Linked DNA regions of Homo sapiens: regions 2 and 3 are each linked to region 1. Evidence: fine-mapped expression QTL. A gene starts in region 1. Each other region holds a variant in brackets. All regions are shown on one strand. Distances are between the middles of the regions. Region 1 holds the start of PARP10 (poly(ADP-ribose) polymerase family member 10). Region 2 holds the start of PLEC (plectin). Region 3 overlaps PLEC (plectin).

Region 1 (8,164 bases):
CCCAACGGCCCCTGGCTCCGGGGTGGGGGGATCGGGCCTGGATCGGCTGCCGGTGCCTGCCAGTGGGGTACGCCGGGAACAGCGGGGTGCGGGGGTGTGTGGGGGATGGAAGCGACCACGGGGCGTGCGGGGAACAAAGCGGGCGTGGGGCGAGGCGGGTAGGGGCTGCGGCCGTGGCACTGGCACCGAGAGCGGATGGGCCCTCCGCGGGCCGGGGGCGCACAGGGTCACGGGTCCAGCAGTCGCCGCAGCGCGCCGCCCCCTCCCTCCGGCTCCAGGCCGCCGCGGCTCCCCGCCCCCACCACCGCCGCCACCTCTGGCCGCGAGCTGCCGCGCGCCCCGGCCGGACCAACTTACTGACCCGAGGCGGCCACGCTCGGATGCGCAAGATCCGCGTGGGGGCGGGGGCGGGGGCGGCAGGCCGCGCGGCGCAGCGGGTCAGAGGCGCTCCTGGGCTCGGGCCGGGGACTCACCGGTGGCCGGGCGCCGCAGGCCGGTACGCACGGTGTCCGCTGCGCGGCCGCGCGGTGATGGCCGATGCGCCCGCACCCGCACCCGCTCGGCGGCCGCTCAGCTGGGCCTGCGCCTGCGGCTCGGAAGACGCAGCGGGGCCTTGTGACGGGGCGGGGCAGGGGGCGGGGCCGGGCGAGCTTCGGGGTGGGAGGGGCAGGTGGGCGGGGCTTCCGCGGACCCCTCCCGCTGCGCCGCCTTGCGTGTTCCTCTTCGCTCCGGCCAGAGGCCCGCCTCTCACTGTCTGCCGAGGGGTGGGGTCGGGCGGTGGGCGCTGAAGACCCCTGGAGGCAGAAGTCTGGTCTGGCCAATTTGACTGGCCGTTCGGTAGTTAAGAAATTTATTCCTAAATGCGGGATTTGCTGAAGCTGCCCGGGACTGACCGTCCGTTCTCGGCCTTAAAACCCGACGTTCACTTCTTTTCATCCAGATCTCTCCCAAATCAAGAAGCCTAATCCTTTAGTTCCCAAATCGAGGCCTCGTGGTTTAATTGCCCCATTTGCTCTGTCAGCCCAAACTCTGCCAGGCCTGCTACTAGAGACCCTTTTTTATTTTTTTAATTCTTGTGGATACATAGTAGGTGTATATTTACGGGCTACATGGGATGTTTTGATACAGGCATGCCATGGATAATAATCACATCAAGGTAAATGGGGTATCCATCAGCTCAGGCATTTTGTCCTTCGTGTTACAAACAATCCAGTTATACTCTTGGAGTTGTTTTAAAATGTACAATTATTCTTGACCACAGTCACCCTTTGTACTAACAAATACGATGTCTTGTTTTCACACTAGAGACCCTGAACGCTCGCTTGTCTGCCTAACGTCCTCACAAGCTGCGAGGGGCTGAGGCTTGGGGATGCAGCAGGACTGGAGGCCAGGCCACCTCCCTGCTTAGCTCCCAAGTCCTCTTGGGGGAGCAGTGACTGACACAGGCAGGGTACATCCTGCTGCCAGCCTTCCCACCCGGGGCCCAGACCCCACCTGCCCTCCCGCCCTTGGAGGGCCGGCCTCTCCCAGGCCGCTCTGAGTCCTGCACCTATGGTGCGCTGGCGCAGTGTTTAGCAGCCGGACCTAGTGAGGGGAAGCCTGGGGTGCGTGTTTTGCACATGCGCGTGGTGTGAATACTCCACCGGGGCTGGTTTCAAGTTACCCCCAGCTGGACAACCAGTCCACAGAAATTCCCGAAACTGTACCAGTCTGCTTGTGGTGTGAGTGGTGCCTGTGGCAGGCCCTCTGCAGCCAGGGTCGGCGTAATGGATAACCTGTGATGAGTTCCATTAGAGAAAACGTGGAAAAAGCAGGGATGGATTTACCCTTGTAGAAGGTAACTTCTACCTTTGTAGAAGCAGAAGCTCACAAAATTTGAGAGACCTTTAAGAAAAATAAAATGCTTGCTGGGCGCGGTGGCTTACGCCTGTAATCCCAGCACTTTGGGAGGCCGAGGCGGGTGGATCACAAGGTCAGGAGATGGAGACCATCCTGGCTAACACGGTGAAACCCCGTCTCTACTAAAAATACAAAAAAAAATTAGCTGGGCGTGGTGGTGTGCACCTGTAATCCCAGCTATTGGGGGGGCTGAGGCAGGAGAATGGCTTGAACCTGGGAGGCAGAGGTTACAGTGAGCTGAGATCGTGCCACCGCACTCCAGCCTGCGTAACAGAGTGTGACTCTGTCTCAAAAAATAAATAAATAAGTAAATAAAAATAAAATAGCTGGGTATGGTGGCTGGCACCAGTAATCCCAGCACTTTGGGAGGCTGAGGCAGGTGGATCATCTGAGGTCAGGAGTTTGAGACCAGTCTGCCCAATAGGGTGAAACCCTGTCTCTGCTAAAAATACAAAAATTAGCTGGGCATGGTGGTGCGTGCCTGTAATCCCAGCTACTTGGGAGGCTTAGGCAGGAGAATCCCTTGAACCCAGTGGGTGGACGTTGCAGTGAGCCGAGATCACGGCACTTCACTCCAGCCTGGGTGAAAGGGCGAAACTCCGTCTCAGAAAAAAAAAAAAAAAAGGCAGAGTAAGGGAGATCATGCCAGAGGGGTGGCCATGGGGGTTTGTGGGGAAGGTAGGGCCAAGCAGAGGGAAGGGCCAGTCCCAGGCTACTGAGGCAGGAGTGGCCTGTAGCTCTGCAGGAAGAGCTGAGAGCCTGGAGCCCTCTGAGCATCAGGGTGTGCAGGGGGCATGGGGCCAGAGAAGGGACTGAGGTCTGGTCAGGTGCAGCTGGGCAGGGGGCAGGTCCTCAAAAGGACTTTGGGTTTTTGTTTTTTTTTTAGACAGAGTCTCACTCTATCACCTTGGTTGGAGTGCAGTGGCACGATCTCAGCTCACTGCAACCTCCACCTCCCAGGTTCAAGCTATTCTCCTGACTCAGCCTCCTGAGTAGCTGAGATTATAGGCACCTGCCACCATGCCCGGCTAATTTTTATATTTTTAGTAGAGACAGGGTTTTACCATGTTGGCCAGGCTGATCTCAAACTCCTGACCTCGTGATCCACCTGCCTCAGTCTCCCAAAGTGCTGGGATTACAGGCATGAGCCACTGCGCCCGGCCCCCAGGACTTTGGTTTCTACTGTTGCTGATGCTGGGAGCTGTAGCAGCTGCTGGTGTCATTTTACAAGGCTCACCCTGACACCTCTGTTGAGGACCCACCATGGGAGTGGCAGACAGAGACTAGTTAAGAGGTTAGCCTAGCTACCTAGCGAGAGATGCTGGAGGCTGGGACCAGGGTCGGGGCAGCAGAGGTGTGGCATGTGCAGGGCTAGGAGTGCAGGCTGGCCAGGGTCCTCAGCTCCCTGGAGGGAGGAACAGCAGGGGTGGGGCTGGGTTTTGGTGGGCTGAGGGGTGAGTGGGAAGTAGGAGATGGAGAGTGGTAGTGGCCACAGCTCTTTGAAAGGCTGGAAGCAAACGGAGCTTGGGTGATGTGGGAGATCTGTGGCGAGTGGGAGTGTGGACTCTGAAGGCACCGCCCAGGTTTGAGGCCTGGTGCTGCTATGGGCCTGTCTGCACCTCCGTTTCCCTTTCTGTGGTGAGGATTAGCGGCAGCAAGGAATGCAGTGGAGCCATTACCTTGTCACCTTCTGAGGTTACTTGTGACGATGCCAATGATGGTGTGAGATGGGGAGGTGCAGGCAGGACAGAAAGCTGCAGGAATGGGCAGGCAAGACCTGAGGCGGGAGGAAGGCTGTGCTGCAATGCACATTCTTGGAGACCAAGGGTGGGGAACCGCCCATGCTCAGCACCTGGCAGGTGTGAGGGACCAGGAGCAGGGTTGAGAAGGTTGCTGGGGGCGTTGAAGGCCAGCCTTGGCCGGGGGCGGGCCTGGAGACCCAGCACTTTGTGTGCAGAGGGTGTCATGGACACAGAGGCTTGGAGATCCTGAGTGAGGGGCAGTGACTCAGGCCCCTTGGTGGGTTTAGTGGGGCGGGTGATTGGCCATTTTCAGGCCATGGAGGCCAGGGGAGTGGAGGGCCACCAGGGGACACTCCTGTCTACCCTGCCAACCAGGGGCTGGAGTGGGCCAGGTAGGGCCGGTGGGCTGGGCTGGGTTGGCTGGAGGGTCCTGAGGGGTCCAGCCTGGCCAATACCTCCTGGTCAGCTGGGGGTTGAGGCTGCAGCAGGAGAGGAAGCATCTGAGCCCCAGTACCCAGGCCTCAGCGCCCAGGGCCCAGCTGCTCCCTCCCTCCTTCCGTCTTTCAGTTTCACTTTTGTTTTCCTGCTCCCAGCAGGGTTAGGCTTGCTGAGGGGCAGGCACAGGAGTCCTGGCTGAGCTCATGGCCTGAGGCTGCCTAGCGGCCACGGGGAATGTAAGTGCTGTATGTGGGGCCACCCATAATGGGGGAGCATTGAGGACACACCTTGGAGGGGCCTGGGGAGGGGCAGGAGGGGTGGAATGGGCTGTTTCCCTACCCACCTGATGCCCCGTCCCAGGGTTGCAATGGCGGAGGCAGAGGCAGGGGTGGCAGTGGAGGTCCGTGGACTGCCCCCTGCCGTGCCCGACGAGCTGCTCACTCTCTACTTTGAAAACCGCCGACGCTCTGGAGGGGGACCTGTGTTGAGCTGGCAGAGACTGGGCTGTGGGGGCGTCCTCACCTTCAGAGAGCCTGCAGGTGAGAGGGCTGGCTGAAGGGACAGCCTGGGTGCCCTGATATTCTAATGCCTGACATCCTGCCCCGCCCCTGCCCACAGACGCCGAGAGGGTCTTGGCCCAGGCAGATCACGAACTACATGGTGCCCAGCTGAGCCTGCGGCCAGCTCCACCACGAGCCCCTGCACGCCTGCTGCTCCAAGGACTGCCCCCTGGCACCACGCCCCAGCGCTTGGAGCAGCATGTCCAGGCCTTGCTGCGGGCCTCGGGGCTCCCAGTACAGCCTTGCTGTGCCTTGGCCAGCCCCCGGCCAGACCGGGCTCTGGTCCAGTTGCCCAAGCCCCTTTCTGAGGCAGGTGAGAGGCAGGGTTGGGGTTGAGGTGCTGGCTAGGGGGGATTCCCTGAGCTGACCTGCACATACCCCACAGATGTCCGTGTCCTGGAGGAGCAGGCCCAGAATCTGGGCCTGGAGGGGACCTTGGTGTCCCTGGCCCGGGTTCCCCAGGCCCGAGCGGTGCGTGTGGTGGGGGATGGTGCCTCTGTGGACCTGCTGTTGCTGGAGTTGTACCTGGAGAATGAGCGCCGCAGTGGTGGGGGGCCCCTGGAGGACCTGCAACGCCTACCCGGGCCCCTGGGCACTGTTGCCTCCTTCCAGCAGTGGCAAGGTGAGTGGGGCTGGGCAGACCCAGCCGACCGTCCCTCTCCTGCAGAAATCTGACAGGCTTTCTGTCCTTTCCCTTCCTCCAAGTGGCAGAACGAGTGTTGCAGCAGGAGCACCGGTTGCAGGGCTCAGAGCTGAGCCTTGTCCCCCACTACGACATCCTGGAGCCCGAGGAGCTGGCTGAGAACACCAGTGGAGGGGACCACCCGTCCACCCAGGGGCCTAGGGCTACCAAGCATGCTCTCCTGAGGACCGGAGGGTTGGTGACGGCTCTGCAGGGTGCAGGGACTGTGACAATGGGCTCTGGCGAGGAACCAGGGCAGTCAGGGGCCTCTCTGAGGACAGGTCCCATGGTGCAGGGTAGAGGGATTATGACAACAGGCTCTGGCCAGGAACCAGGGCAGTCAGGGACCTCTCTGAGGACAGGTCCCATGGGGTCTCTGGGACAGGCAGAGCAAGTCAGCTCGATGCCCATGGGGTCTCTGGAACATGAGGGGCTGGTAAGCCTGAGGCCTGTGGGGTTGCAGGAACAGGAGGGGCCCATGAGCCTGGGGCCTGTGGGGTCTGCAGGCCCAGTGGAGACCTCTAAGGGGTTGCTGGGGCAGGAGGGCCTGGTGGAAATTGCCATGGACTCACCAGAGCAAGAGGGGCTGGTGGGTCCCATGGAGATCACCATGGGGTCTCTGGAGAAGGCAGGGCCTGTGAGCCCAGGATGTGTGAAGCTGGCAGGGCAGGAGGGCCTGGTGGAGATGGTGCTATTGATGGAGCCAGGGGCGATGCGCTTCCTGCAGCTCTACCATGAGGACCTTCTTGCGGGCCTGGGAGACGTCGCTCTCTTGCCACTTGAAGGACCGGATATGACTGGCTTTCGGGTGAGTGACCCCTCAGGACTCCTCACCTTCAGCCCCCTCCTCCTACTGGGGACTCAAAGTACCTTTCCTGTGCTCTAAACCTGCAAACTCCATCTCTGCAATGGCCCTGCAGCTCTGTGGAGCCCAGGCTTCCTGCCAGGCGGCTGAGGAGTTTCTGCGGAGCCTGCTGGGCAGCATTAGCTGCCATGTGTTGTGCCTGGAGCACCCGGGCAGCGCCAGGTTTCTCCTGGGCCCAGAAGGGCAGCACCTTCTCCAGGGGCTGGAGGCTCAGTTCCAGTGTGTCTTTGGGACAGAGCGCCTGGCCACAGCCACGTTGGACACAGGCCTTGAAGAGGTAGAGATGGAGTCCCACCCCTGCCCTCCCCTTTCTCACGCCTCTGCCCCAGGCCTCCTCTGCCCTTGCCCAGAGGCTAGTGGTCCTGACATCCTCTCCCTACAGGTGGACCCTACCGAGGCCCTCCCAGTGCTCCCTGGCAACGCCCACACCCTGTGGACCCCAGACAGTACAGGTGGTGACCAGGAGGACGTGAGCCTGGGTAGGGCTCCCTGGGAGCCCTCAGCACATCCTGTGGCCCTCACTTGACCTCACCCCCTGCCCTGCTCTGTGCTCCCATCTGTCTACTGACCCATCTTAGGCCCACCCTGTACCCTAAAAACTTGCTCCCCATCTTTCATCCATTCCAACTCCTCCTGGGTCCAGCCCCTGACCCAATGGCCTCTCCCTGCCCCCAGAGGAGGTCCGAGAACTGCTGGCCACCCTGGAGGGCCTAGACCTAGACGGGGAGGACTGGCTGCCTCGGGAGCTGGAGGAGGAAGGGCCTCAGGAGCAGCCAGAGGAGGAGGTGACCCCAGGGCATGAGGAGGAGGAGCCTGTGGCCCCCAGCACTGTGGCACCCAGGTGGCTGGAGGAGGAGGCCGCTCTGCAGCTGGCCCTCCACCGGTCACTGGAGCCTCAAGGTCAGGTGGCTGAGCAGGAGGAGGCTGCTGCCCTGCGGCAAGCCCTAACCCTCTCCCTGCTGGAGCAGCCCCCGTTGGAGGCAGAAGAGCCCCCAGATGGGGGGACTGATGGCAAGGCCCAGCTGGTGGTGCACTCGGCCTTTGAGCAGGATGTGGAGGAGCTGGACCGGGCGCTCAGGGCTGCCTTGGAGGTCCACGTCCAGGAGGAGACGGTGGGGCCCTGGCGCCGCACACTGCCTGCAGAGCTGCGTGCTCGCCTGGAGCGGTGCCATGGTGTGAGTGTTGCCCTGCGTGGTGACTGCACCATCCTCCGTGGCTTCGGGGCCCACCCTGCCCGTGCTGCCCGCCACTTGGTGGCACTTCTGGCTGGCCCCTGGGATCAGAGTTTGGCCTTTCCCTTGGCAGCTTCAGGCCCTACCTGTGAGTCTACCTCCTGGACTGAGGGACGGTGGGGTGGGCTGGTTAGCAGGGGCTAGTGCCCCAGGCATGGCTCTGACCCCCCGCTTTTCCCCATGCATCAGTGGCGGGGCAGACGCTGAAGGGGCCCTGGAACAACCTGGAGCGTCTGGCAGAGAACACCGGGGAGTTCCAGGAGGTGGTGCGGGCCTTCTACGACACCCTGGACGCTGCCCGCAGCAGCATCCGCGTCGTTCGTGTGAGTCCATGCCCTGTCTCTCTGGCCTCATGGCGTCCTGGGCTCTTGCACCATTAGCGCCTTGCCAAGTCTGTGGCCTGTCCCTCTCGCCTACATCAAGGTCAGCTGACCAGGAGCTGACAGGCTCCCAGCCCTGTTCTCTGCCCAGAGGGCGTTCCCAAAGTGGGTAGGGAAACAGGAGGGAACAGAGTGGGGGCCTTGGGATCTGATAGGCCTGAGTGAGGGTCCCCACTCTGCCACTCGTGGCTGGGTCAGCAGGGACTATGGGACCAGCTCCAGGCCTCAGTTTCCTTATTTGGAGCATGGGGCGGTGATGCCATCTTGTGGTCATTTTGAGGATTACTCGCTCCACAGATGCGTCCCTTGTGCTGTTCTGGGCGCTCTTCTGCCTCCACAGAAAGGCCCGGGCTCGCTGCGGTCACT
Region 2 (8,164 bases), 44 kb after region 1:
AGACCACCTTTGGGGCTGAGGAATGTGAGTCTCAAGGAGTGGGGTGTGGTGGGCAGTTTGGGGCTCTGCTCCCGCCTGGCTCCTGAAATACCGCTGGGCACATGGATGCCTGGAATGTGGGTGGGAGGGTGGGAGGGCAGGGCTGGGCTGGTGGGGCCTGCAGCGGGAAGGGGAGGCTACAGGGTGGGGTCTGCTGGGCGGGGGGTCTGCTGGGCGGGGCAGGAACAGTAGGGAAGACCCGTGGGCTGGGGCCGGAGGGCTCTCTGGGATTGCAGGCAGGCCAGTCCCCTGCACCCCCAGGCAGGTCTGCTGGGCTGGTCTGACCCGTCAGTCGGCTGGGCTTCATCTCTGCTTACTGACTAAGGGGTGGCTGCGAGGAGGAGCCGCTGCTACCAGGGCATGAGTGGGCCCTCCCTCTGCCTCCCACCCCTTCCCTCCTTCCTGCCTCGCCTTCCTCCCTGCCGGCTCTCGGAGCAGCCTGGCCTGTGTGGCAGCCATGGACAGGTACAGCATGGAGGAGCTGATTCAGCTGGGCCAAGGTAGGGCAGGCAGAGCTGGGGGCTGTGGGAGGCAGAGGAGAGGGCCGGGGCCGCCTCTGGCAGACCTGTCTCTTCCCGTTGTCCACCGTTCTGTGCCGTCAGACCTGGGATGCAGGGATAGGCACAGCCCCCTCTCGGAGCTGCCCCAGGGGTGTGTGTGATGTGTGTCCCGGAAGCACAGGCCTGTCCGGACCTCCGTGGAGTGGTAGAAGAACTGCCCGCTGCCAGCCTGGGGCACTCCTCCCGCCAGGAGCTGGTTCTCACCCAGGCCATTGAGTCAGGCTCCTCTGAGGCTTCCCCAGCACGTGGCAGGGAGTGGGCTGAAACGTCCGGCCTGTCGGCCCCTGCCCACTGCTGGCCAGATGCTGTCCTGGGCTCAGCTGGGAGTTGGGCCCTTTCTGGCATGCCTGGGTATCCCTGACCCTCAGGGCTGCCTGGGCCCGCCCGACCCCTGGCCGCCCAGAGTGGGCCACTGCAGGCATTTCCCTCGGCCGCACGTTTTTGAGGTGTGGGGCTGGAGAGCAGGAGGCTGGGGTGGGCCCGGCCCTCTTGTTGTCCGCGGGCTTCCCAGCATGGACCTGGGTGGCCTGCCCAGTGGCCCGGGGCCAGGCTGGTTCACTGTGCCTTGCTGTGGGCTGAGGTAACTACACTGGAGGCCACCTGGGCTCAGATGGCAGCGTGCGGGACAGCAGGCGGCGCCTCAGGCTCCTGGTCTGTATGAGGCCTTCATGGTATAGGACTTCATGGGGTTTGCTGAGGGTTCCATGTGGTGCCAGGAGCGACGCTGTGGAATGGGGTATACCGTCAACGTGCATTCTCCTGGGCCTGAGGGGTGCGCCCAGCAGACAGGGGTCCCAGGAAGAGGAGCAGGACTGTGCGTGTCCCACGTCCTGTTTCCCCGGCTGCATTGGGATCTGATCTGCATAGGATATGCTGTGGGCCTGCCTGTGGCCCGGCTCTCTGACCCAGGCCTTCCACAGAGCAGGGCTTCGGGACTCCTGGGTGGAGCCAGGCCAGTCTCCTGCCGTGGCCCAGGAGAGGCGTCTCCATCCCAGATCCCTGGGACCCCAGGAGAGGCTGTGCTGTGGGGCAGGCGCAGGCCTGAGCCCTGGTTTCGGGCTGCCTGGGTCTCTGGCCTGCGCGTGACTTTGGGGTGGCTGTCCCGGCCACCGGTGGGGCCAGGTGCTGTGTTGAGTGACCTGCGCAGGGCCCTCTGGGAGAATGGGCGGCCTCTTCTCTTGGCCCCTGTGGCCTTTCCAAGAGCACCCCCTGGCTTGGCAGGGCAGGTGGGTGGGGACTGCACCGCCTCCTGCAGGGACGTGAGCCCGCACCTCCCGCGCCCTGCTCTATTATATTAGAACCCCCTGTGGGAGCTGGGGGACCGAGGTGTCGGGTGGCACCGTCCAGCCAGACCTGACTGCAGCGGGGCCTGGGTGCCCTGGCGCCGTGCGTCATGTTCCAAGTCTGGGTGGTGACGGTCCTTGCGCGCCCTCCTCGGATATTTATATCCCCTGGGCCCCTGCCCACTGCTCCCCTCCCCCACAAGCTGCTGCTGACAGCAGCACGGCCGTGCCCTCCTCCCACCCGACGCTGCCGCCAGTGGCTTGTGCCTCCTCCGAGGGGCCTGTGACCTCCCACACCCCTGGCCCGCTCCGTCTGCCCCGTGGGCTCCTGCCACCGTCCCCGATGAAGATCGTGCCCGGTAGGTGGGCAGCCCTTGAAAGCCTTGTGAAATCCTGGCCCCTTGCTGGGGACAGGGGCCAGAGGGCTGGGGCTGAGGCTGGAGGCCAGGGGCGCTGTCCCTCGCCCTGCACACAGCCTGCCTCATGTGCCCTCACCCAGACCCCCTCAGCCCTGGTCTGCAGTCTCACTTTTGGGGTGTTGGGGCTGGTGAGGAGGGCGAAGTTGAAGGAGTGCAGTGGGTTCAGCTGCAGGCTTGAGGTGGGGGCTCTGGCATCCCTCCATGCCTGCCAGCTGTCCCCAGAGGGCAGCCTTGGAGGCAGAGTGGGCTGCTCGGGCCCCTCTTCTGGTGGGGACAGCAGGGGGAGGCTGGGAGGGAGGGAGGGTGTGTGCCGAGGCCGCGGGCAGTGCTGGGGGGCTGCGGCTTGGCCAGGCGTGCGGCTGGCCCCTCCTCCCGGCGGGTGTGGCCGCGGGGACGCAGGGGTTAAGGCCAACTAACCTTGAGCGTCAGTAGCCCTGCGCAGGGACAGCTGAGCCGGCCGGGTGGGGAGCGAGGGTGGGGAGGCGCCGAGGGCCGGACCCGCGGAGGGAGGAGGAGAGGAGGCGGGCGGGAGCTGTTGTGGGGCTGCCGCCGCGTATGGGGCGGTCCTGCGGGCAGGGCAGGCTCCGGTCCCGGCGCTCCCCCTCGCTCGCCCTGCACGCAGGGAGGGGGCTGTCTAGCCTGGAGCAGCCGGTTCCCAGCGCAGGAAGGGCAGCCCTGGCGGCTCCGCGTGGCGGCTATGGAGCCCTCGGGCAGCCTGTTTCCCTCCCTGGTGGTTGTGGGTCACGTTGTCACCCTGGCCGCTGTGTGGCACTGGCGCAGGGGACGTCGGTGGGCGCAGGACGAGCAAGGTAAGCCCCGCTGGTGGCTGCCAGGGACTCGAGGCGGGGCAGAGGGGCCGCCTGCCTCCCGCCCCTTCATTCCCTGCGCCCTCCCCTTCCTGTTTCCAAGCTGAATGTCAGTGAAAGCAGTGTTGCCCCTCCACCCCACCCTGCAGTGTAGACCCTGACCCTGCTGCAGTCCCAGGGCGGGGCGGGCTCTGCAGTGGCCCTCAGCCTGCAGCCTGTGCGGGACAGGTGGGTGGAAGCGGAGGCCGGCAGGGCAGGAGCGTCCCCCACACGAAGGGAGGCCTGTGGCAGCCGCCGTGGCAGGGACAAGTGGGCAGGTGCCTGTCCGGCCAGCACTGAGGTGGAGGTGGCTCCCTGCACACACAGCAGGGGGTGGAGCCACACGCAGGTGAGGCAGGTGCCCTCATGCCCTCGGGCCGCACAGGGGGCGGGGGCAGCCAGGCTGTGCCCTGCCCTCCCTGCTCAAAGTCACCAGCTCCTGGGCTGTGGTCCCAGGTGGCAACCGTGCCCAGCACAGGATGGGGCGGGGCCCTGGGGATTGGGCAGCCTCAATTATGGGCTTCTGGCCAGAGGGACTGCCTATCGGGGACCTGGCTGGCCAGACCTCTCCTGCAGTGAGGGCGCTGCCTGGCTCAGCTCCTCTGCTGGATCCCCGGACTTGAGATGAGTCAAGATGGGGCTTCTAGGCGTGGCGCTGGGGACGCCCGGAGCTGCC[G/T]GGGACTCAGCTGCCAGGATGGGACTTGGGCTGAGGGCTTCTTCCCCATCCATGTTTTTGGCTGGGGACCAGACACTGTCCCTGCCTCCCCACCTCAGCCCACAATTGCCCCCTTCGGCCACGGTCCTGGCTCACAGGATGCCTCTACTCCCTGGTGGTGCCAGACGCGGCTCAGCTCCTCGGTTCTGCCTCCAGCGTTGTCTGCCCACCACCTGGCCCCATGCCCTGCCTTCCTCCCTGGGCCCTGCAGTCCCCACCGCACATCCTGCTGGGAGGCCCCCTCCCATGCCGCTTCAGTCCCAGGGCAGCCTCCCAGCCCGGCCCGTGGGTTGGGGCGCGGCTTCCTGGCTGCGCTGGGCGGGGCTGCGCGCCAGGGGCAGGTTCTTTGGGTCTGGGCCTCGCTCCCGCAGTGGGCGGATTGTGGGGGGGAGGTGGAAGAGGTGGAGAGCGAAGCCGGCAGCCTCGCAGCGTGGGCTGGAAGCAGAGGCGCCGCCGCGGTCCAGCTCCCCGCACTGTCCGTGGGCCGAACCAGGGCTCCGGCCGTGGCCGGCATGTCGGGGGCGGGGGGCGCCTTTGCCTCGCCGAGGGAGGTCTTGCTGGAGCGGCCGTGCTGGCTGGACGGGGGCTGCGAGCCGGCCCGCAGGGGCTACCTCTACCAGCAGCTGTGCTGCGTAGGTGGGTGCAGTGGCGTGGCCGGTGGCACAGAAGGGGCCACCATCGCTCTCACCTAGTGGGGCTGGGTCTCTGCTGGGAACCGCCGCCTGGGCTGGGATGGGGGTGGCGCCTTGGCCCGGTGCAGCCTTGCCCCCGAGCTCCGGAAACACCTGGGGAGGAAGGCGGGGTGATGTTCCCCTACCCCCATTTGTTTGTCTCTAGAGAAGGGGCTGGAGGGGGCGGGGCTGGAGGGGGCGGGGCTGGCCCACCCCCGGCTGTTCCACGTCAGCCTGGGCTTTGGCCTGGGTTTCCAGGACACGGGGGAGGGAGGAGGTGCTGAAGGCGGGGCTCCAGGCCTTCTGTGGACTTGCTGCAGTCCTGGGCCAGTGGGATTCCCTTCCCAGTCTTGGGGTTTCCATCCTAGGACCGTCTCCACTAGCTGCGGGACCTCAGCCATAGGGTCCACACCTGTAAAACGGGGGCGATACTCCTCAGAGGGCCACGGCAGTGCCTGTCGTGAGGGACCCTGGGCTGGCGGCCGAGGGTCAGCAGCCCTGGACAGCACAGGTGTCAGGCAGGTGTGCAGAGGCACCTGAGCTGGGGGTGTTCTGGGTGCGTCCCAGGTGGGAGAGCCAGCTGAGCTGCAGCTGTAGAGGGTGGGTGTAGCCTGGCTGGGTGGGGCGGGTGTGTCTGTTGGTTTTAGGGTCAGAATAGGATTGGATGGGGCGGGGCAGGCTGGGCTGGGAGGGAGGGGAGGTGATGAGGAGGGAAGAGCTCAGAGCAAAGAGGCACCCAGAGGCAGGAAGTAGGGAAGGGGAGCTTGAGCCAGGCTTGGGAGGTGGAGGCCCCTGACCGAGCCCCCAGCCCACCTGGTCCCAGCCCTGCCCCGCCCCAGCCCTTCTCCTCACCCGGTCCCAGCCTTGCCCGAGTCCGTGTCTGGAGTCCCCACCGTGCCCCTTCCCTTCCCTGAGCCCCTGCCCCATTCCTGACCCTGGCCCGGCCCAGGGCGGCATCTTTGGAGGCCTGTTAGTGGCAGGGAGAAGGCTGGAACAGGGGCCTGGCTGGGGTGGGCTCCACGTGGGTCCTGGACCTTGGCCCCGGCTCCCAGTTTCCAGCTGTCGTGGACTCCCTGTGCCCACCTCCCTGGCTGTTCCGGGATCTCACACTGTGCCTCAGCAGAGTGGCAGCCCCGTTCCTGCAGGCAGGAGCCACCTGGTCACGGCCGGGCCCCCAGAGCCCATACCCAGCAGGCGCGGGGCTTGGCCTCAGGGTAGCTGCTGGCCCAGGGCTTCTGAAGAGGCGACAGTGTTTCCAGAGGCTTTGGACCCAGGGAGGGGCGGCAGAGGTGTGGGGTCCGGGGTGCCCTTGGGCACAAGACTGGAGGTGCTGACCAGTGCGGGGTCAGATTTTGATTTGGGGGCTTCTGGTGACTCCTGAGGTTCTGGAGGCTGCTGGGCCGGACAGGCAGAGCAAGAGGGTCACCCTGAATCTCATGCCAGGCTCAGAGACCATGCATGGAGACCAAGGGGTGTCTTCGTTGGGCGGCGTGTACGATGTGGCAGAGCCCTAGGGGCTGGCTGTGCCCCTTGGCGTGGAGTGGGGGCTTCCCCACCTCTGAGGGGTTTGGGCACCCCCCATTGTGAGGGTTCTGGTGCCCCCTCACGGCCTCAGGGGCAGTAGGAATGAGGTGGGGTGAGCTCTTCCCAGAACTGAGGCCGAGTGCAGCTCCCAGCTGGACCGAATCTGCCTGATGTGCGGCTGGAACATTCTTGTGGTTGGGGCAGCGCATTCTTTCCTATGGTGGTCGGGTGGGCTGGGCAGGCCCAGAAGCTGGCCAGAGGCAGCTCCGCCCCGGACCCCAGGGAGCCGGAGGCCCCAGCCAGCGCAGGCCCTTTGCCCTTTGCCCTTTACAGCATGAGACTGCTTCCCTTGAGCCCCACCCAGCTGCAAACAGCACCCCCCACCCCTGGGGTCGCCCAGGTCCTGCCTCAGGTGTGGCTTCCCCTCTGTGAGTCACAGGCTTGGGCCCCCTCCCCATCCCTGACTCACTGGCGAGGCCCCTCCTGGGGCTTCCCGATGCTCCATTCCCCCATGAGGCCCGGCCTCCGTGAGTCAGCCCTCAGCTACGCGCCTCCGACGTGAGGTGTCTGCCTGGGGCAGGGTGGGCTCCGCAGGTGGGCACTGCTCCAGGATGTGCCAGGTGGGCAGCTTGGGAGGGGCCAGGCCTGGGGTGGGACCCCACTGGCCCCAGGGCCAGGGCAGGCACCATGGGGCAGGGTGTGCTCCCCGCTTCATGCAGGTCTGTGAAGAGGTGTGATTGGGGGGCTGCAAGAGCTGACAGGCAGCAGGTCCCCTCCCCTCGCCAGGTATCAGCGGCTTCTTGAGTCCGCCCTGGCAGGGTGGGTGGGCAGAGGCTGAAGCAGGGCCTGGCCCAGGCCTGGAGGGAGCTCCAAAGAGAGGCGTGGCCTCAGAGCCCCTCCCGTCGGGGGAGCCCTTCAGTCTGTTGGGGGGTCCTTCTGGGTGGCTGTGGGGACGGCCTGTGTTCCTCTGCGGTCCTGGCACCATTTGGTGTGCAGTGAAGTGCCAGCTCCCCGTGTCCCCAGGTCCCCCTAGGGGGCTGCAGTGGTCGGGGTGGGTGAGGAAACCCCGGTTTCCTGTTTCTGGCGGGCCGAGGGCGTGTCTGTGGGGGAGGGGGCTGCTTGCTCCTTCCCGCCGGGACACTCCCCTCCCTGGCGGCGGCCTGGGCAGGGTGGGGCCTCGGGGGCGGGCCGGCCTCGCCGGGGAGTACAGCAGGCAGGGAGTGGCCGCACCGACTGGGGCTCTGAGCTGAGCCTGTGCCGAGTGAGCGTCTCGTGGGGCCGCCAGCCTTCAGCTGCCTGTGTGCCACACGGGGCTGCCCAGAGCACCGTGCCTGAGGCCGAGGGTCCGGGCGACGAAGGTGTGGGGGCAGCATGTCTCAGCACCAGCTCCGCGTGCCGCAGCCCGAGGGCCTGGGCCGAAAGAGAACCAGCTCGGAGGACAACCTGTACCTGGCTGTGCTCAGGGCCTCTGAGGGCAAGAAAGGTAGCAGGGCTCCCCTCGGGCACCCCCGCCAGGCAGGGCGGGCCCCTGCGGGAGGAAGGCCCACTTCCTGTGGCAGGAAAGCCTTGGCACCGCTGGGGGGCTGGTCTTGGAGATGGGGGTCGGGGGCCAGCCATCCCCACCCAACACGGAGTGGGCCGACAGGCGCCCGCGAGGCTGACGGGGGCCTCCGAGCGTCAGATGTCGGGCCTGGAAGGGCGAGGAACTCTGCGCTCTGGGGAAGGTTCGCTGCCCTGTCAGCAGCACACGCGGCTTCCCTTCCAACACCCCAGCGGGCCCGGGCCCTGGCTCTGCCACACCCCTGCTTGGGTCTCAGTCTGTAGAGGCCGGGGGGGACTGCAGGACGGGACTTGTGTGCCCTGGGCTCAGGGTGCGCCCAGGACCCTCCCATTTCCTCGGGGGAAGAGTCCGGGGTGGGGTGGCTGCACCTGGTGGCGCCTGGGCCCCTGGCACCTGGGTCTCTGCTGTGTGGCTGGGCTGCGGGTGAGGGCGCCTGGGTCTCAGTGTGTGATCTGAGGGAGGCTTTGGGGCTCCCCAGGCAGGACCTGGCCAGCCAGGCTGCTGTGTCTGCACGGTGGTCACCTGAGGGCCCCCGGGGCTTCTCCCA
Region 3 (8,164 bases), 65 kb after region 1:
GCGGCTGCAGGCGGAGGAGGCGGAGCGGCGCCTGCGGCAGGCCGAGGTGGAGCGAGCGCGGCAGGTACAGGTGGCCCTGGAGACGGCGCAGCGCAGTGCAGAGGCGGAGCTGCAGAGCAAACGCGCCTCCTTCGCCGAGAAGACGGCACAGCTGGAGCGCTCCCTGCAGGAGGAACACGTGGCTGTGGCACAGCTGCGGGAGGAGGCTGAGCGGCGGGCACAGCAGCAGGCCGAGGCCGAGCGGGCGCGCGAGGAGGCAGAGCGGGAGCTGGAGCGCTGGCAGCTCAAGGCCAACGAGGCGCTACGGCTGCGGCTGCAGGCGGAGGAGGTGGCGCAGCAGAAGAGCCTGGCGCAGGCCGAGGCTGAGAAGCAGAAGGAGGAGGCGGAGCGCGAGGCGCGGCGGCGCGGCAAGGCGGAGGAGCAGGCCGTCCGGCAGCGGGAGCTGGCTGAACAAGAGCTGGAGAAGCAGCGGCAGCTGGCGGAAGGCACCGCGCAGCAGCGCCTGGCCGCGGAGCAGGAGTTGATCCGGCTGCGGGCCGAGACGGAGCAGGGGGAGCAGCAGCGGCAGCTGCTGGAGGAGGAGCTGGCCCGGCTGCAGCGTGAGGCGGCTGCAGCCACGCAGAAACGGCAGGAGCTGGAAGCCGAGCTGGCCAAGGTGCGGGCCGAGATGGAGGTGCTGCTGGCCAGCAAGGCGAGGGCTGAGGAGGAGTCGCGCTCCACCAGCGAGAAGTCCAAGCAGAGGCTGGAGGCCGAGGCCGGCCGGTTCCGCGAGCTGGCCGAGGAGGCCGCCCGCCTGCGTGCCCTGGCGGAAGAGGCCAAGCGGCAGCGGCAGCTGGCCGAGGAAGACGCGGCGCGGCAGCGGGCCGAGGCGGAGCGGGTGCTTGCGGAGAAGCTGGCCGCCATCGGCGAGGCCACGCGGCTCAAGACGGAGGCGGAGATCGCGCTCAAGGAGAAGGAGGCGGAGAACGAGCGCCTGCGGCGGCTGGCGGAGGACGAGGCCTTCCAGCGGCGGCGGCTGGAGGAGCAGGCCGCGCAACACAAGGCTGACATCGAGGAGCGCCTGGCCCAGCTGCGCAAGGCATCGGACAGCGAGCTGGAGCGGCAGAAGGGGCTGGTGGAGGACACGCTGAGGCAGCGGCGGCAGGTGGAGGAGGAGATCCTGGCGCTGAAGGCGAGCTTCGAGAAGGCGGCCGCTGGCAAGGCGGAGCTGGAGCTGGAGCTGGGACGCATCCGCAGCAACGCGGAGGACACGCTGCGCAGCAAGGAGCAGGCCGAGCTGGAGGCTGCGAGGCAGCGGCAGCTGGCGGCGGAGGAGGAGCGGCGGCGCCGTGAGGCTGAGGAGCGCGTGCAGAAGAGCCTGGCGGCCGAGGAGGAGGCCGCACGGCAGCGGAAGGCGGCGCTGGAGGAAGTCGAGCGGCTGAAAGCCAAGGTGGAGGAGGCGCGGCGCCTGCGGGAGCGAGCGGAGCAGGAGTCGGCGCGGCAGCTGCAGCTGGCCCAGGAGGCCGCCCAGAAGCGGCTGCAGGCGGAAGAGAAGGCACACGCCTTCGCGGTGCAGCAGAAGGAGCAGGAGCTACAGCAGACGCTGCAGCAGGAGCAGAGCGTGCTGGACCAGCTGCGCGGCGAGGCGGAGGCGGCCCGGCGGGCGGCTGAGGAGGCGGAGGAGGCCCGGGTGCAGGCGGAGCGTGAGGCGGCGCAGTCCCGGCGGCAGGTGGAAGAGGCCGAGCGGCTGAAGCAGTCGGCAGAGGAGCAGGCACAGGCCCGGGCTCAGGCACAGGCGGCTGCAGAGAAGCTGCGCAAGGAGGCCGAGCAAGAGGCGGCGCGGCGGGCACAGGCGGAGCAGGCGGCCCTGCGGCAGAAGCAGGCAGCTGACGCGGAGATGGAGAAGCATAAGAAATTCGCCGAGCAGACGCTGCGGCAGAAGGCGCAGGTGGAGCAGGAGCTGACAACACTGCGGCTGCAGCTGGAGGAGACCGACCACCAGAAGAACCTGCTGGACGAGGAGCTGCAGCGGCTGAAGGCGGAGGCCACGGAGGCCGCACGCCAGCGCAGCCAGGTGGAGGAGGAGCTCTTCTCGGTGCGCGTGCAGATGGAGGAGCTGAGCAAGCTCAAGGCACGCATCGAGGCTGAGAACCGCGCACTCATCTTGCGTGACAAGGACAATACGCAGCGCTTCCTGCAGGAGGAGGCTGAGAAGATGAAGCAGGTGGCGGAGGAGGCCGCGCGGCTGAGTGTGGCGGCCCAAGAGGCTGCGCGACTGCGGCAGCTGGCAGAGGAGGACCTGGCACAGCAGCGGGCCTTGGCAGAGAAGATGCTCAAGGAGAAGATGCAGGCGGTGCAGGAGGCCACGCGACTCAAGGCTGAGGCGGAACTGCTGCAGCAGCAGAAGGAGCTTGCGCAGGAGCAGGCGCGGCGGCTGCAGGAGGACAAGGAGCAGATGGCGCAGCAGCTGGCGGAGGAGACGCAGGGCTTCCAGCGGACGCTGGAGGCCGAGCGGCAGCGGCAGCTGGAGATGAGCGCTGAGGCTGAGCGCCTCAAGCTGCGTGTGGCCGAGATGAGCCGAGCCCAGGCCCGCGCTGAGGAGGACGCCCAGCGCTTCCGGAAGCAGGCGGAGGAGATCGGTGAGAAGCTGCACCGCACGGAGCTCGCCACCCAGGAGAAGGTGACCCTGGTGCAGACACTGGAGATCCAGCGACAGCAGAGTGACCATGATGCCGAGCGCCTGCGGGAGGCCATCGCTGAGCTGGAGCGTGAGAAGGAGAAGCTCCAACAGGAGGCCAAACTGCTGCAGCTCAAGTCTGAGGAGGTACCGCCCCCTCTACGTGCGACGGGCGGGTGGGCCCGGGGATCTGCTTTGGTGGGTGATGGGTGCTCCTGGGCTGGCGGTCCCTGATCACACCCTCTTCTTCTGCAGATGCAGACGGTGCAGCAGGAGCAGCTGCTGCAGGAGACGCAGGCCCTGCAGCAAAGCTTCCTCTCTGAAAAGGACAGCCTGCTACAGCGGGAGCGCTTCATCGAGCAGGAGAAGGCCAAGCTGGAGCAGCTCTTCCAGGACGAGGTGGCCAAGGCACAGCAGCTGCGTGAGGAGCAGCAGCGGCAGCAGCAGCAGATGGAGCAGGAACGGCAGCGGCTGGTGGCCAGCATGGAGGAGGCGCGGCGGCGGCAGCATGAGGCCGAGGAGGGCGTGCGGCGCAAGCAGGAGGAGCTGCAGCAGCTGGAGCAGCAGCGGCGGCAGCAGGAGGAGCTGCTGGCTGAGGAGAACCAGAGGCTGCGTGAGCAGCTGCAGCTCCTGGAGGAGCAGCACCGGGCCGCGCTGGCGCACTCAGAGGAGGTCACTGCCTCGCAGGTGGCTGCCACAAAGACCCTGCCCAATGGCCGGGATGCACTTGATGGCCCCGCGGCAGAGGCAGAGCCGGAGCACAGCTTCGATGGCCTGCGGCGGAAGGTGTCAGCTCAGAGGCTGCAGGAGGCCGGCATCCTGAGTGCGGAGGAGCTGCAGCGGTTGGCGCAGGGCCACACCACGGTGGACGAGCTCGCA[C/T]GGCGGGAAGACGTGCGCCACTACCTGCAGGGCCGCAGCAGTATCGCAGGGCTGTTGCTGAAGGCCACCAATGAGAAGCTGAGTGTTTACGCCGCCCTGCAGAGGCAGCTGCTGAGTCCCGGCACGGCCCTCATCCTGCTGGAGGCGCAGGCGGCCTCAGGCTTCCTGCTGGACCCTGTGCGGAACCGGCGGCTGACCGTCAACGAGGCTGTGAAGGAGGGTGTGGTGGGCCCCGAGCTGCACCACAAGCTGCTGTCGGCCGAGCGCGCCGTCACTGGCTACAAGGACCCCTACACTGGCCAGCAGATCTCTCTCTTCCAAGCCATGCAGAAGGGCCTCATCGTCCGGGAGCACGGCATCCGCCTGCTGGAGGCCCAGATCGCCACGGGCGGCGTTATCGACCCCGTGCACAGCCACCGCGTGCCCGTGGACGTGGCCTACCGGCGCGGCTACTTCGACGAGGAGATGAACCGCGTCCTGGCGGACCCCAGCGACGACACCAAGGGCTTCTTTGACCCCAACACGCACGAGAACCTCACGTACCTGCAGCTACTGGAGCGCTGCGTGGAGGACCCCGAGACGGGCCTGTGCCTTCTGCCACTCACGGATAAGGCTGCCAAGGGCGGGGAGCTGGTCTACACTGACTCCGAGGCCCGGGACGTCTTTGAGAAGGCCACCGTGTCTGCGCCGTTCGGCAAGTTCCAGGGCAAGACGGTGACCATTTGGGAGATCATCAACTCGGAATACTTCACGGCAGAGCAGCGGCGGGACCTGCTGCGGCAGTTCCGCACGGGCCGGATCACAGTGGAGAAGATCATCAAGATCATCATCACGGTGGTGGAGGAGCAGGAGCAGAAGGGCCGGCTTTGCTTTGAGGGCCTGCGCAGCCTGGTGCCAGCCGCCGAGCTGCTGGAGAGCAGGGTCATCGACCGCGAGCTCTACCAGCAGCTGCAGCGAGGTGAGCGCTCTGTGCGAGACGTAGCCGAGGTGGACACTGTGCGGCGGGCTCTCCGGGGTGCCAACGTCATCGCGGGTGTATGGCTGGAGGAGGCGGGGCAGAAGCTGAGTATCTACAATGCCCTGAAGAAAGACCTGCTGCCATCCGACATGGCCGTGGCCCTGTTGGAAGCCCAGGCCGGCACCGGGCACATCATCGACCCCGCCACCAGCGCCCGGCTGACCGTGGACGAGGCAGTGCGTGCTGGCCTGGTGGGCCCCGAGTTTCATGAGAAGCTGCTATCAGCCGAGAAGGCTGTGACAGGGTACAGGGACCCCTACACAGGGCAGAGCGTCTCCCTGTTCCAGGCCCTGAAGAAGGGCCTCATTCCCCGGGAGCAGGGCCTGCGCCTGTTGGACGCCCAGCTGTCCACGGGCGGCATCGTGGACCCCAGCAAGAGCCACCGCGTGCCCCTGGATGTCGCCTGCGCCCGAGGCTGCCTGGATGAGGAGACCAGCAGGGCCCTGTCGGCACCAAGGGCCGACGCCAAGGCCTACAGTGACCCCAGCACAGGGGAGCCGGCCACCTACGGCGAGCTCCAGCAGCGGTGCCGGCCCGACCAGCTGACCGGGCTGAGCCTGCTGCCGCTCTCAGAAAAGGCTGCTCGGGCCCGGCAGGAGGAGCTCTACTCAGAGCTGCAGGCCCGTGAGACCTTTGAAAAGACCCCGGTTGAGGTCCCCGTGGGTGGCTTCAAGGGCAGGACGGTGACGGTGTGGGAGCTCATCAGCTCTGAGTACTTCACTGCGGAGCAGCGGCAGGAGCTGTTGCGTCAGTTCCGCACGGGCAAGGTCACCGTGGAGAAGGTCATCAAGATTCTCATTACCATCGTGGAGGAGGTGGAGACCCTGCGGCAGGAGAGGCTGTCCTTCAGCGGCCTCCGTGCCCCTGTGCCAGCCAGCGAGCTCCTGGCTTCCGGGGTCCTCAGCAGAGCCCAGTTTGAGCAGCTCAAGGACGGCAAGACGACGGTCAAGGACCTTTCGGAGCTGGGCTCCGTGCGGACGCTGCTGCAGGGCAGTGGCTGCCTCGCCGGCATCTACCTGGAGGACACCAAGGAGAAGGTGTCCATCTACGAGGCCATGCGCCGGGGCCTGCTGAGAGCCACAACGGCTGCGCTCCTGCTGGAGGCGCAGGCGGCCACTGGCTTCCTGGTGGACCCCGTGCGGAACCAGCGCCTGTATGTCCACGAGGCCGTGAAGGCGGGCGTGGTGGGCCCCGAGCTTCACGAGCAGCTGCTGTCTGCCGAGAAGGCCGTCACCGGCTACAGAGACCCCTACTCGGGCAGCACCATCTCCCTCTTCCAGGCCATGCAGAAGGGCCTGGTTCTCCGGCAGCACGGCATCCGCCTGCTGGAGGCCCAGATCGCCACGGGCGGCATCATCGACCCCGTGCACAGCCACCGCGTGCCTGTGGACGTGGCCTACCAGCGCGGCTACTTCAGTGAGGAGATGAACCGCGTCCTGGCGGACCCCAGCGACGACACCAAGGGCTTCTTTGACCCCAACACGCATGAGAACCTCACGTACAGGCAGCTGCTGGAGCGGTGCGTGGAGGACCCCGAGACGGGCTTGCGCCTTCTGCCACTGAAAGGGGCGGAGAAGGCTGAGGTGGTGGAGACCACGCAGGTGTACACTGAGGAGGAGACAAGAAGGGCATTTGAAGAGACACAGATCGACATTCCCGGCGGCGGCAGCCACGGCGGCTCCACCATGTCCCTGTGGGAGGTGATGCAGTCGGACCTGATCCCCGAGGAGCAGCGGGCCCAGCTGATGGCTGACTTCCAGGCCGGCCGGGTGACCAAGGAACGCATGATCATCATCATCATCGAGATCATTGAGAAGACAGAGATCATCCGCCAGCAGGGTCTGGCCTCCTACGACTACGTGCGCCGCCGCCTCACGGCTGAGGACCTGTTCGAGGCTCGGATCATCTCTCTCGAGACCTACAACCTGCTCCGGGAGGGCACCAGGAGCCTCCGTGAGGCTCTCGAGGCGGAGTCCGCCTGGTGCTACCTCTATGGCACGGGCTCCGTGGCTGGTGTCTACCTGCCCGGTTCCAGGCAGACACTGAGCATCTACCAGGCTCTCAAGAAAGGGCTGCTGAGTGCCGAGGTGGCCCGCCTGCTGCTGGAGGCACAGGCAGCCACAGGCTTCCTGCTGGACCCGGTGAAGGGGGAGCGGCTGACTGTGGATGAGGCTGTGCGGAAGGGCCTCGTGGGGCCCGAGCTGCACGACCGCCTGCTCTCGGCTGAGCGGGCGGTCACCGGCTACCGTGACCCCTACACCGAGCAGACCATCTCGCTCTTCCAGGCCATGAAGAAGGAGCTGATCCCTACTGAGGAGGCCCTGCGGCTGCTGGATGCCCAGCTGGCCACCGGCGGCATCGTGGACCCCCGCCTGGGCTTCCACCTTCCCCTGGAGGTGGCTTACCAGCGTGGCTACCTCAACAAGGACACGCACGACCAGCTGTCAGAGCCCAGCGAGGTGCGCAGCTACGTGGACCCGTCCACCGACGAGCGCCTCAGCTACACGCAGCTGCTCAGGCGGTGCCGTCGTGACGACGGCACCGGCCAGCTGCTCCTGCCACTGTCGGACGCCCGCAAGCTGACCTTCCGTGGCCTGCGGAAGCAGATCACCATGGAGGAGCTGGTGCGCTCGCAGGTCATGGACGAGGCCACGGCGCTGCAGCTGCGGGAGGGCCTGACCTCCATCGAGGAGGTCACCAAGAACTTGCAGAAGTTCCTGGAAGGCACCAGCTGCATCGCTGGTGTCTTCGTGGACGCCACCAAGGAACGGCTCTCGGTGTACCAGGCCATGAAGAAGGGCATCATCCGCCCCGGCACAGCCTTTGAGCTCCTGGAGGCGCAGGCGGCCACCGGTTACGTCATCGACCCCATCAAGGGACTGAAGCTGACGGTGGAGGAGGCTGTGCGTATGGGCATTGTGGGCCCCGAGTTCAAGGACAAGCTGCTGTCGGCCGAGCGCGCCGTCACTGGGTACAAGGACCCCTACTCTGGGAAGCTCATCTCCCTCTTCCAGGCCATGAAGAAGGGCCTGATCCTGAAGGACCATGGCATCCGCCTGCTGGAGGCCCAGATCGCCACGGGCGGCATCATCGACCCTGAGGAGAGCCACCGGCTGCCCGTGGAGGTGGCCTACAAGCGCGGCCTCTTCGATGAGGAGATGAACGAGATCCTGACCGACCCCTCGGACGACACCAAGGGCTTCTTTGACCCTAACACGGAGGAGAACCTCACCTACCTGCAGCTGATGGAGCGTTGTATCACTGACCCCCAGACGGGCCTGTGTCTCTTGCCGCTGAAGGAGAAGAAGCGGGAGCGGAAGACGTCCTCCAAGTCCTCCGTGCGCAAGCGCCGAGTGGTCATCGTGGACCCCGAGACGGGCAAGGAGATGTCAGTGTACGAGGCCTACCGCAAGGGCCTGATTGACCACCAGACGTACCTGGAGCTGTCCGAGCAGGAGTGCGAGTGGGAGGAGATCACCATCTCCTCCTCGGACGGCGTGGTCAAGTCCATGATCATCGACCGCCGCTCCGGGCGCCAGTACGACATCGATGATGCCATCGCCAAGAACCTCATCGACCGCTCGGCACTGGACCAGTACCGCGCCGGCACG

The links. PIP is the estimated chance that this variant, and not a neighbour inherited with it, causes the effect.
Region 2: its variant is fine-mapped to the expression of PARP10 in ovary (GTEx, PIP 0.98).
Region 3: its variant is fine-mapped to the expression of PARP10 in whole blood (TOPMed, PIP above 0.99).

The regions. Positions count from the first base shown.
Region 1 is chr8:143,982,509-143,990,672 of GRCh38, reverse strand. It overlaps PARP10 (poly(ADP-ribose) polymerase family member 10), which reads left to right and starts at 4,213. Exons shown (of 11, transcript NM_032789.5): 1 at 4,213-4,315; 2 at 4,440-4,618; 3 at 4,698-4,952; 4 at 5,025-5,261; 5 at 5,345-6,129; 6 at 6,242-6,463; 7 at 6,569-6,665; 8 at 6,862-7,506; 9 at 7,608-7,741. The coding sequence starts at 4,314. It overlaps GRINA (glutamate ionotropic receptor NMDA type subunit associated protein 1), which reads right to left and starts at 617. Exons shown (of 7, transcript NM_001009184.2): 1 at 474-617. RefSeq lists silencers at 26-165, 186-685 and enhancers at 3,537-4,440, 4,111-4,550.
Region 2 is chr8:143,938,725-143,946,888 of GRCh38, reverse strand. PLEC (plectin) reads left to right here and starts at 7,292. Exons shown (of 32, transcript NM_201384.3): 1 at 7,292-7,539. The coding sequence starts at 7,428. It overlaps MIR661 (microRNA 661), which reads left to right and starts at 1,610; the gene lies at 1,610-1,698. LOC124902040 (a long non-coding RNA gene) reads right to left here and starts at 3,025. Exons shown (of 2, transcript XR_007061144.1): 1 at 2,719-3,025; 2 at 1-1,323. RefSeq lists enhancers at 1-180, 3,579-3,828, 6,374-6,668, 6,846-6,905, 7,316-7,555 and silencers at 2,709-2,978, 4,049-4,508, 4,729-4,818, 7,066-7,295, 7,576-7,675. The variant G/T (reference allele first, on the strand shown) is at 3,823.
Region 3 is chr8:143,917,143-143,925,306 of GRCh38, reverse strand. PLEC (plectin) reads left to right here. Exons shown (of 32, transcript NM_201384.3): 31 at 1-2,803; 32 at 2,912-8,164. Among named protein-coding and RNA genes, the nearest start is that of PLEC, 18 kb to the left of the region's middle. The variant C/T (reference allele first, on the strand shown) is at 3,536.